3 linked regions of the Homo sapiens genome follow. The protein of the gene in region 1 interacts with the protein of each later gene in a pairwise test. Each region holds a gene or a part of one and is shown in the gene's direction. Other genes may lie near its edges. The genes, in order: GIPC1, TYRP1 and ZNF444.

The links.
Region 2: the proteins of GIPC1 (region 1) and TYRP1 interact in binary tests that used the Homo sapiens proteins (3 or more experiments, as listed by UniProt).
Region 3: the proteins of GIPC1 (region 1) and ZNF444 interact in binary tests that used the Homo sapiens proteins (3 or more experiments, as listed by UniProt).

What each region holds. Positions count from the first base shown.
Region 1 is NC_000019.10:14,482,506-14,486,254, reverse strand, and holds part of GIPC1 (PDZ domain-containing protein GIPC1), read left to right. Parts: intron 1-3,248; 5' UTR 3,249-3,278; coding exon 3,279-3,566; intron 3,567-3,749. UniProt on the Homo sapiens protein: May be involved in G protein-linked signaling.
Region 2 is NC_000009.12:12,691,648-12,695,396, forward strand, and holds the start of TYRP1 (5,6-dihydroxyindole-2-carboxylic acid oxidase precursor), read left to right. Parts: upstream 1-1,737; 5' UTR 1,738-1,831; intron 1,832-2,264; 5' UTR 2,265-2,349; coding exon 2,350-2,734; intron 2,735-3,749. UniProt on the Homo sapiens protein: Plays a role in melanin biosynthesis. Catalyzes the oxidation of 5,6-dihydroxyindole-2-carboxylic acid (DHICA) into indole-5,6-quinone-2-carboxylic acid in the presence of bound Cu(2+) ions, but not in the presence of Zn(2+).
Region 3 is NC_000019.10:56,139,168-56,142,916, forward strand, and holds the start of ZNF444 (zinc finger protein 444), read left to right. Parts: upstream 1-2,119; 5' UTR 2,120-2,190; intron 2,191-2,530; exon of another isoform or gene 2,531-3,065; intron 3,066-3,108; exon of another isoform or gene 3,109-3,749. UniProt on the Homo sapiens protein: Transcriptional regulator. Binds to the 5'-flanking critical region of the SCARF1 promoter.

The sequences.
Region 1 (3,749 bases):
TCTGTTCAATGGGCATAATTGTAGCATAACGTGATCCCTGTGTTACAGTGTGGTGTGAGGGTTAAGGAAGGTCACAGGCCGGGCACGGTGGCCCATACCTGTCATGCCAGAGCTTTGGGAGGCCAAAAGCTCCTTGAAGCCAGGAGTTCCAGACCAGCCTGGGCAACAGAGAAAGATCACCTCCTTGCCAGGCGCAGTGGCTCACGCCTGTAATCCCAGCACTTTGGGAGGCCGAGGCAGGCGGATCATGAAGTCAGGAGATCGAGACCATCCTTGCTAACGTGGTGAAACCTCGTCTCTACTAAAAATACAAAAAATTAGCTGGGCATGGTGGCGGGCACTTGTAGTCCCAGCTACTCCGGAGCCTGAGACAGGAGAATGGCGTGAACCCTGGAGGTGGAGCTTGCAGTGAGCCGAGATCGCGCCACTGTACTCCAGCCTGGGTGACATAGTGAGACTCTGTCTCAAAAAAAGAAAAAAAAGAACTCCTTTCTCTCTCTCTCCCTCTCTCTGTCTCTCTCTCTCTCTCTCTCTCTCTCTCTCTCTCTCTCTATATATATATATATATATTTGTTTATTTATTTATTTATTTATTTTTTGAGACGGAGTCTATCTCTGTCACCCAGGCTGGAGTGAGTGCATTGGCACGATCTCTGCTCACTGCCAACCTTCGTCTCCTGGGTTCAAGCAATTCTCCTGCCTCAGCCTACCCAGTAGCTGGTACTACAGGCGTCTGCCACCATGCCCAGCTAAGTTTTGTACTTTTAGTAGAGATGTGGTTTCACCATGTTGGCCAGGCTGGTCTCGAACTCCTGACCTCAAGTGTTCTGCTCACAGCCTCCCAAAGTGCTGGGATTACAGATGTGAGCCATCGCACCAGGCCTACAATAAAATTTAAAAAAAAAATAGTCGGGTGTGATGGTACATGCCTGTAGTTCTAGCCACTTGGGAGGCTGAGAATGGAGGATGGCTTGAGCCCAGGAGGTTAAAGCTGCAGTGAGCCATTATCGTGATCACCCCACTGCACTCCAGCCTGGGGACAGAGCAATAAGAGACCCTGACTCTTTTATTTATTTATTTTTATTATTTTTTTTTGAGACTGAGTCTTGCTCTGTTGCCCAGGCTGGAGTGCAGTGGTGCAATCTCAGCTCACTGCAATCTCTGCCTCCCAGGTTCAAGCGATTCTCTCGTCTCAACCTCTCGAGTAGCTGGGATTACAGACGCCCGCCACCACGGCCAGCTAATTTTTGTATTTTTAGTAGAGACGGGGTCTCACCATGTTGGCCAGGCTGATCTCCAACTCGTGACCTCAGGTGATCTGCCCACCTCAGCCTCCCAAAGTGCTGGGATTACAGGCGGGCACTATGGCTCATTCCTGTACTCCCAGCACTTTTGAGAGGCCGAGGCAGGAGGATTGCTTGAGTCTAGGAGTTTGAGATCACTCTGGGCAACATATTGAGACCCCTCATCTCTGCAAAAAGTGTTTTTTGTTTTTTGTTTTTTGTTTTCTGTTTTTGAGATGGAGTGTCATTCTGTCACCCAGGCAATGGCACGGTCTCAGCTCACTGCAACCTCCGCCTCCCAGGTTTCAGGCAATTCTCCTGCCTCAGCCTCCTGAGTAGCTAAGACTACAGGCACATGCCACCACACCCGGCTAATTTTTGTGTTTTTTTGGTAGAGACAGGGTTTCACTATGTTGGCCAGGCTGGTCTTGAATTCCTGACCTCGTGATCCACCCGCCTCAGCCTCCCAAAGTGCTGGGATTACAGGCATGAGCCACCGCACCCGGCCTGCAAAAAGTTTTAAAACGTCAGCTGAGCATTAGGCACAGTGGTTCACGCTTTTAATCCCAGCGCTTTGGGAGGCTGAGGTGGGCGGATCACTTGAGGTCAGGAGTTCAAGACCAGCCTGGCCAACTTGGTGAAACCCCATCTCTACCAAAAATGTAGAAATTACCCCGGTGTGGTGGCACAGACATGTAATCCCAGCTTCTTGGGAGGCTGAGACAAGAGAATCGCTTGTACCCGGGAGGCAAGAGATTGCAGTGAGTGAGCTGAGATTGCACCACTGCACTCCAGCCTGGGCAACGGAGTGAGACTCAGTCTCAAAAAAAAAAAAAAAAAAAGAGTCAGGGTCTCTTCTTCAAGAATCACTTGAACCTGAGAGGCAGAGGTTGCAGTGAGTCAAGATCACACCGTTGCAATCCAGCCTAGGGGACAGAGTGAGACTCCATCTCAAAAAAATAAAATAAAGGTTAGCTGAGCTTCATGGCATGTGCCTATGGGCCCAGCTATTTGAGAGACTGAGGTGTGAGGATCCCTTGAGCCTGGGAGATCAAGGCTGCAGTGAGCTTTAATTATACCACTGCACTCCAGTCTAAGTGACAGAGCAAGACCCTGTCACAACAACAAATGAAACACACAAGGAAGGTCACAAAGCAATAATCCTAGCTGGTATTATTATTATTATTATTATTATTATTATTATTATTATTATTATTATTATTGAGACAGAGTCTTGCTCTTTTGCCCAGGGTGGAGTGCAGTGGTGTGATCTTGGCTCACTGCAACCTCTGCCTCCTGGGTTCAAGCAATTCTTATGCCTCACCCTCTTGAATCACTGAGATTACAGACATGCGCCACCATGCCTGGCTAATTTTTTTGTGTTTTTGGTAGGGATGGGATTTCGACATGTTGGTCAGGCATCTCGAACTCCTGACCTCAAGTGATCCTCCCGTCTCAGCCTCCCACAGTGCTGGGATTACAGGTGTGAGCTTTTTATTTTATTTTATTTTATTTATAGACGGAGCCTTAGTCTGTCACCCAGGCTAGAGTGCAGTGGTGCGATCTTGGGTCACCGCAACCTCCACCTCTCCAGTTCAAGCTATTCTTGTGCCTCAGCCTCCCAAGTAGCTGGGATTACAGGTGCACACCACCACACCCGGCTAATTTTTATATTTTTAGTAGAGGTGGGGTTTCACCATGTTGGCCAAGCTGGTTTCAAAGTTTTGACCTCAAGTGATCCGCCCACCTCAGCCTTCCGTAGTGGTGGGATTACAGGCGTGAGCCACCGCACCCAGCCCTATTATTACTTTTATATAAGTGTCCTGTCACTATACAAGAGATGAGGATTTCAACCGAGGCCAATTTGTTCTCTGAGTATTTCCTTGGGCCTGTATGGTTCGAGTAGTGTGGGAGGGGCACCCAAGGCCTCTGCCCAGGCCCTGAGCCCCACTTCCTGTCCTGCAGATCTTCTGGTGACCCCACTTCTCGCTGCTCATGCCGCTGGGACTGGGGCGGCGGAAAAAGGCGCCCCCTCTAGTGGAAAATGAGGAGGCTGAGCCAGGCCGTGGAGGGCTGGGCGTGGGGGAGCCAGGGCCTCTGGGCGGAGGTGGGTCGGGGGGCCCCCAAATGGGCTTGCCCCCCCCTCCCCCAGCCCTGCGGCCCCGCCTCGTGTTCCACACCCAGCTGGCCCATGGCAGTCCCACTGGCCGCATCGAGGGCTTCACCAACGTCAAGGAGCTGTATGGCAAGATCGCCGAGGCCTTCCGCCTGCCAACTGCCGAGGTATCCACTGGGGAGCCGGGCACCAGGGTCCCTGATGGTGGACCAGAGGTCTGGGCCTGCATCCTGTTCATGAGCTGGGGCTCAGATGCTGAAGCTGCAGATGCTGAGCCTGGGCCCCACTCAGTGGTGGGGGCCAATGGCCTGGGCTGGATGCTGAGTCCCCATGAGGCACTGGGAGGCTTG
Region 2 (3,749 bases), on another chromosome or scaffold:
CAAACTTTGCTCCATAGTGGTTGTACTAATTTACATTACTACCAACGCTGTATGAGGGTTTCCTTTTCTCCACATCCTTGTCAACATTTCTTATTGCCTGAATTTTGGACATAAGCCATTTTAATTGGGGTAAGAGGGTATCTCACAATAGTTTTGATTTGTACTTCTCTAATGATCAATAATGTTGAGTATCTTTTCATAAGTCTGTTTGCCATTTGTATGTCTTCTTTTGATAAATGTCTGCTCAAATATTTTGCCCATTTTTTTATTGGATTATTAATTTTTTTCTATAGAATTTTTTGAGCTTCTCATATATTCTGGATATTAATCCCTTGTCAAATGGGTAGTTTACAAATATCTTATCCCATTCTGTGGGTTGTCTCTTCACTTCATTGATTGTACTCTTTGCTGTGCAGAAGATTTTTAACTAGATGTGATCCCATTTGTTCATTTTTGCTTTGGCTACCTGTGCTTGTGTGGTATTGCTCAAGAAATCTTTGTCAAGACCAATGTCCTCAAGATTTTCCTCAATGTTTCTTCATTGTAGTTTCATAGTTTGAGGTCTCAGATTTAAATATTTAATCAAATCATTTTTTATTTGATTTTTGTATATGGAACGAGATAGGGACCTAGTTTCATTCTTTTGCATATGGGTATGTAGTTTGCCAGCACCATTTATTAAAAAGACTGTCTTTTCCCCAGTGTATGTTCTTGGTATCTTGGTGAAAAATGTCTTTACTGTAGGTGTGTGATTTTGTTTTTGGGTTCTCCTGTTCCATTGCTCTATGTGTCTGTTTTTAGGCCAGTACCATGCTGTTTTTGCTACTATCACTCCGTAGTATAATTTGAAGTAAAGTAATATGATTCCTCCAGTTTTGTTATTTTTGCTTAGGATAACTTTGCCTCTTCAAGGTTTGGTGTTCCATATAAATTTTAGGATTTTCTTTCTGTTTCTGTGAAGAATGTCTTTGGTATTTTGATAGGAATTGCATTGAATCTGTAGATTGCTTTAGGTAATACGGACTTTTTAACAATCTTGATTCTCCCAATCCATGAACATATAATATTTTTCCATTATTTGGTGTCTTCTTCAATTTCTTTCATCAATGTTTTGTAGTTATCATTATAGAGACCTTTCATTCATTGGTTAATTCCTAGGTATTTAATTTTATGTGTGGCTATTGTAAATGGGATTACTTTTTTATTTCTTTTTCACATTTTTCACTGTTGGTATATGGAAACTTTGCTGATTTTGGTATGCTGATTTTGTATCCTGCAACTTTACTGAATTTGTTTGTCAGCTCTAATAGTTTTTTAGAGGAGTCTTTAGGTTTTATTCAAATATAAGATCTTATCATCAGCAAACAAGGATAATTTGACTTCTTCATTTCCAATTTGGATGCTCTTTATACCTTCTCTTGCCTGGTTGCTCTAGCAAGGTAATATGTTGAATAACAGTTGAATAACAGAATAAAAAAAAATCTCTGCAAAGTAAACAAATCTCACTAGTTTATCTGACTTGTATTCCAAATTAGTGCTTCTGGCCTTTTCTTAAAACTTTAAGCATCACAAGGAAATCAGTTGGAAGGGAATCATGTGCTGATCAAGTCCTTAAAGGGCAGAAATATTCACTGAAGTGAAAAGGATTAGTAAAGGGTGGAAAAAAAGACCAGCCCCCCGCCTAGTTTGGGTGAGCAGATTTGGGATTAATTATCAGGCAGCAATCCACATGCACTTAACAGTTCTGACGTGAGAGGACAAGAAACACAAGCAAATATAAAACATTCAATTCTAAGAGAAGTTCATCAGAGACATCCTTCAGGATTGTGAGGTACTGGAAAGAAGTCCTATGGGGAGTGGGTGGACACGTGCCAAAACTCCATTAGTGTAAGGGACTTTAAATCACAGAAATTAACTTGCTGGAAATCTGTTCCCAATTCTTCCTTCAGCTCCAAGGTTAAATTAAATGTAATTAATGATGGTGACCTGCTAATTCATGCTTTTGATAACTGATATCTAGTATGTATATATATATAAACAAAATGACGAGGACAGGGAATTTAATTATTTGGGTATCACACATGCAGGTGTTATATATGCCAAATTTTAAAGGTAAAATTTGTGTGAAATGTCACACTTTTATTATTTGTGTGAAATGTCATTTTACATATGGGTTCCATTTTGAAAGTGGTTTGGGAAGGGGGCATACCATTTTAAGTACCAAGAAAAACTTGCATAATCTCATTTTACTTTCTCTTTTTCAGCTGGATTTTCCTCTACGTGCTTCAGTCTTCTCTACACAAAGAGCTGCAAACCAGGTCTTTGTTTTGCACTCTTATTTCAAGCAGAATGAGTGCTCCTAAACTCCTCTCTCTGGGCTGTATCTTCTTCCCCTTGCTACTTTTTCAGCAGGCCCGGGCTCAATTCCCAAGACAGTGTGCCACTGTTGAGGCTTTGAGAAGTGGTATGTGTTGCCCAGACCTGTCCCCTGTGTCTGGGCCTGGGACAGACCGCTGTGGCTCATCATCAGGGAGGGGCAGATGTGAGGCAGTGACTGCAGACTCCCGGCCCCACAGCCCTCAGTATCCCCATGATGGCAGAGATGATCGGGAGGTCTGGCCCTTGCGCTTCTTCAATAGGACATGTCACTGCAACGGCAATTTCTCAGGACACAACTGTGGGACGTGCCGTCCTGGCTGGAGAGGAGCTGCCTGTGACCAGAGGGTTCTCATAGGTAAGTGGAGATATGAATGAGTTCATAAGTCCTGCATGAGACTCAAGGCTCTTAATAAAATCTTAAATCATTTGAGCTGGAGGAATACCTGGAAATCATATAGCTCAACCCTCTCTTTTCATAGTTGAGGAAACTGAGGCTTAGAAAGGTTAAGAAACTTGTTTAATGTAAAGGGTTGGAGTTGAAGCTCAGAACTTCTGATCAATATTTTATTCTGAAACATTTATTGAGCAACCACTATATCCTAGGAACTGTGTTAGGTATTATGACTAGTCAATTCAGTAACTCCTTCAGGTAAACATGTTAATTGTCATAGATGAGGTTCAGAAAGTTCAAATCCACACAGGTGATATTTAGTAAACCTGGAATTCATGCTGAGATCTACCTAGCCCTTATATTTTAGTTCTGCAACTACCCCTGCTGACCCTTAAAGAAGTTTCCCACCATGATGATCAAATTCAGCATTTGAGATGAAGAGTTTGGCCTGCAGACTAAATAGCATTAAATAACAAAGCACTAAACAGTAACAGCCAACAATATTTGATTGTGTTCTATGTGCGAGATAGTAGACTAAGGGTTTAAATGAACATGTATTGAGTCCTTACTATGAGTTAGGCCTTGGGCTAATTGCTTTTTATGTGTGTGGTCTTTGAACTTTCAATTCTGTAAAGCAAGTATTATTTTTATCCACATTTTAATGATTAAAAAAAAACTAAGACTTGGAAAAATGTGCCCAAAGTCATAGAATAATTCTCTGGTCTTAACTACTATGTTATATCACCTAATTTTCAAAGATTTATAATGTTAAAAAGACAGAAAATTCCAACAAAAATGCCAACAGTGGGCAGAAATCAACATGACAAGGTCACAGAAACATAAAATCCATAGGTAAGATTAAAGAAAGGTAATATAAATCATGCAGTAAATTGGAGAGAGAAAAGGGAAGAAAGAGAGAGAAAGCAGGCTTGAAGAAAGGGTTTTAGTTAAGGATATTTTTAAAAGTGTAAAATAATTT
Region 3 (3,749 bases), about 42 Mb from region 1:
TTTTACCACAATTAAAAAAAAAAGATCCCTTTGGCGCTGTGTGGAGCAGGAACTGAGGGGCAGGAGGCAGAAGAGGCGAGAGTGGAAGCATGACAGTGTCTAAAGAGGCCATGGGGACTTAAACCAGGTGGTAGCCATAGACGGGAGAGCTGTGGACAGATTCTGCATCTATTTTGAAGACAGAGCCAATAGGACCTGATGATAGATTGCATGTGGATGGTGATGAAAAAGAGGAATTGGCTGGGCATGGTGGTTCACGCTTGCAATCACAGCATTTTGGGAGGCCGAGGAGGCAGATCACTTGAGGCCAGGAGTTCGAGACCAGCCTGGCCAACATGGCAAACCCCATCTCTATTAAAAATACAAAAATTAGCTGGGCATGGTGGTGCACGCCTGTAGTCCTGGCTACTCAGGAGGATGCAGCATGAGAATCACTTGAGACTGGGAGTCGGAGGTTGCAGTGAGCTGTGATCGCACCACTGCACTCCAGCCTGGGCAACACAGCCAGACCCTGTATCAAAAAACAAAACAAAACAAAACAAAAAACCAAAAAAAAAAAAAGAAAAAAGAATCAAGGGCTGCTTTTCTATTTTTGGCCTCAACATTTGGGTGAAGATGGACTTGCTTTCTAAGATGGTGGAGTAATGGGAAGGAACAAATTTCTTCGCAAGGTGGGGGAGAGAGTGAAAAATTATCTACTGCCCACCTTAGGTTTGAGATGCCTATTAAGAAATCCAAGAGGAGATGTCAAGTAGGCCATCGGATATGAGTGGGAAGAAGATCAGCGTGCTCTAGGAGCAGAAAGGAGGCATGACTGGAACTCATTAAACACGAGGAGAAGACAGTGGTAGACAGGTGGGCCAGGGCAGATTAGGCCACCGTGGGCAAACTGGTCACAAAGTTCTGAGTCAGCCACTCATCGCTTGTGAAACCTGGGGAAAGTTGTTCATTTATGAATATAAGACGAACAACTTCCATGTAATGAATGCTTGTTATGGGTAAGCCACTGTCTTCGTTTTTATGGCGCGGAGTCTTCAGATCAGCCGGGGAGGTGGAGGATGGGAGGGGGATTCTCTTATCCTTGTTGTACGGAGGAGGAAATACGCTGCGGGCTGGGGTAGGGCTTGTATGAGCCATAATCAGGTCTGGAACTGTCTAGATAAAAACTTCAGCTGATCTCTTAGGATGTCTGTCTGCTCTAAAATCCAAATATGCTTCTTCACAGTTCTGAGATGCAGAAACTGAGGCCTCAGGACGGGGCAGTAGTCTGTCCAATAGGGGCACAGCGAGGACGCGTGGCAGGTAGCGCTGTCCCCCAATTCACCCCAGGGGAAACTGAGGCTAAAGAGAGGGCGGTGTCCTGTCCAGGTTCACACACAGGAAGAGCCAAACCGAGGCCCCCGCGCTGGCCCCCTCCTGAGCCACTGCCCACCCCGGAACAGGAGGGCAGCCTGCTCACGTCCTGATTCCTGGCACCGACATCGGCCCTTAAGTTCTGCCCGGGTGGAGAGGGAGGACAAAAAAAAATGCGATCCGTAGTCAAGGAGACGTAGCCTGCACTCCTGATTGGCGCAGAACTCTAGCCTGGTCTCCTCCTCCTCCTCCTCTTCGCTTGCCAGCTTCTAGAGCTCCGGAGGCCCCACCTCCCAAATGCCCGGCGGTGCCCGGCCTCCCCTGATCTCCACAACAACGCCGCCATGGCTCCTCCTCCTCCTCCCTCTTTTTTTCCCGGCACTTCTGCGCATGTCCAGGGCCCGCGCGCAGACCACTGGGAAGCCTCCTCGTGCATTCTGGGAAATGTAGTCCAAAGCCTGTCGCGCTCAGACAGCCCGCGACATTTGCGCCGTCAAGGCCAAATAGGCTGCAGACGACGCTTTCGCGTATCTTGGGAAATGTAGTTCCAGTGTTGGCGAAGACGCCACGCGGTGACAAACAGGAGTAAGGCGGTCCCCAGGCGAGGGCCAATTGGCAGCCGCCTTTGCCGCGATGCTTCCTGGGAGTTGTAGTTCGGGGTGAGGCCGGGGCTTCATGGGGAGTTGTTGGGCTGAACGAGCGGCTCGGAGTATGGGATTGGGGGAGGGGGACGGGGGAGTTTGGCGCAAAGCCTGCTGGGGCATGGAGTCCCGGCGAGCTTTGTGCGCATGTGCGGGGAGGTGAGGGGGCTTGGGGGGCCTCGCCTGAGAGAGTGAGGTGAGCGAGGGGGGAAGGAGGGAGGGATTGGGTGGGGGCGGTTGGACGAGGGAGGGACCAGAGGTTGGATGGGAAGAGGGGCGCCGGGGGCCTCAGGAGGGAAAGATGGGAGACTTGCGGGGAGGGGAGGAGAAGGGGGCTGAGTGATGGGGAAGGGGCTGGGAGAGGGAACTAGAGGGGGAGGGACTTGGAGAGGGGGAGGGGTGGATAGTGGGAGGGGGTCGTGGATCCTCGAGGTCCTGAACGCGGGAGAGAAATGCTGAGGGAGAGGACGGGGGAGGGGCGCCTGGGGGAGGGGGAGGGGCGGGACGGGGGAGGGACAGGTGGGGGAGGGGAAGGGGACCCTAGCAGAGGGTGGGCTGTGAGATGAAAGCTGAGTGGGAAGCTGGACCCTACAAAGGAGTCTGGGGGCGCCGGGACCGGACCCCTTCGGAAAGGTTTGCGGGAAGGGGCTTCCGGGGACGATGGTTATTGTTGTAACGTAGATACGGCGCAGGTGGCTCGTTTTGCGCGCTGCTTCTACAAGTGCAACTTTTACAGAGTTGTGAGATTCCTGAAGATAAGAATCGTTGCTCTGTTTTGCTGCTTTCTCAGTGCGGAGCATCTGCCTTTTTAGCTTGTTGCAAGGCATTATTACCTTCGGTAATATGTGTAAAGTGCTTAGAAACTCTGTTTATTGTCAAATGAAGTTGACCCCCGCCACCTCTACCCCAGTCAGGATGGAGTCACCCTCCTCTATATCCGATTTTAACGCCTATTCCAATGTATACTTAGTATTTTAATCTGCGTGCGTGTTCATAGCAGTGTCCCCTGGGCACCTCGCAGGGAAACTTCGACAAAGTAACCCTAAGTCTGACTGGACACTTACTAGCCAGGTGTGGTTCTCAGCATTTTTGTTCTCCTTCTATCACTTTACAGTCAACGAAATGGAGATACAGGGTATTACAAAAGGTGCCTTGTACCTCGTCCAAGGACACAGAGCTGGTAGGAGGCAGAGCTGGAATTTGCCCCAGAGCCTTTGTGCCGTAGGTAAATATTTGTCCAGTGGGCCAGCGGCTCTCAACCAGGAGTGGTTTTGTCCCCCAGGGGACATGTGGCAATGTCTGGAGACTTTTTTTTTGGTTTTTCCAACTTGGGAAGTGCTACTGGCATCTCATGAAAAGAGGCAGAGATGCTGGTAGACATCGTATGTTGCACAGGATAGCCCGCCACGACACAAGTGCCATTAATGTCGAGGTTGGGAACCTAGAGTAGACAAACCGGTCTTTGTCGAGCACTTAGCCTTTGGAGGCTGCTTCTAACTCCTGCTCCCAGCAGCCTCTTGAGAGGAAGGAGCTCTTGTTAGTCCTGTGTCTCAGGTGGAGAAATGAAGCACAGAGGGGGTAAGTCACACGTCCACAGTCACACTGCTGATGAGTGGCAGAGCTGGAAGTTGAAGCCAGGCAGCCAGACTCCACAGCCTCTTAGCCATGATATTAACCCAGCATATGTGGGTGCTGGTGCCGGGGTACTAGGTGGAACTGGTGTGGACTCTGGAGTCACATCTGGGTCCCATTTGT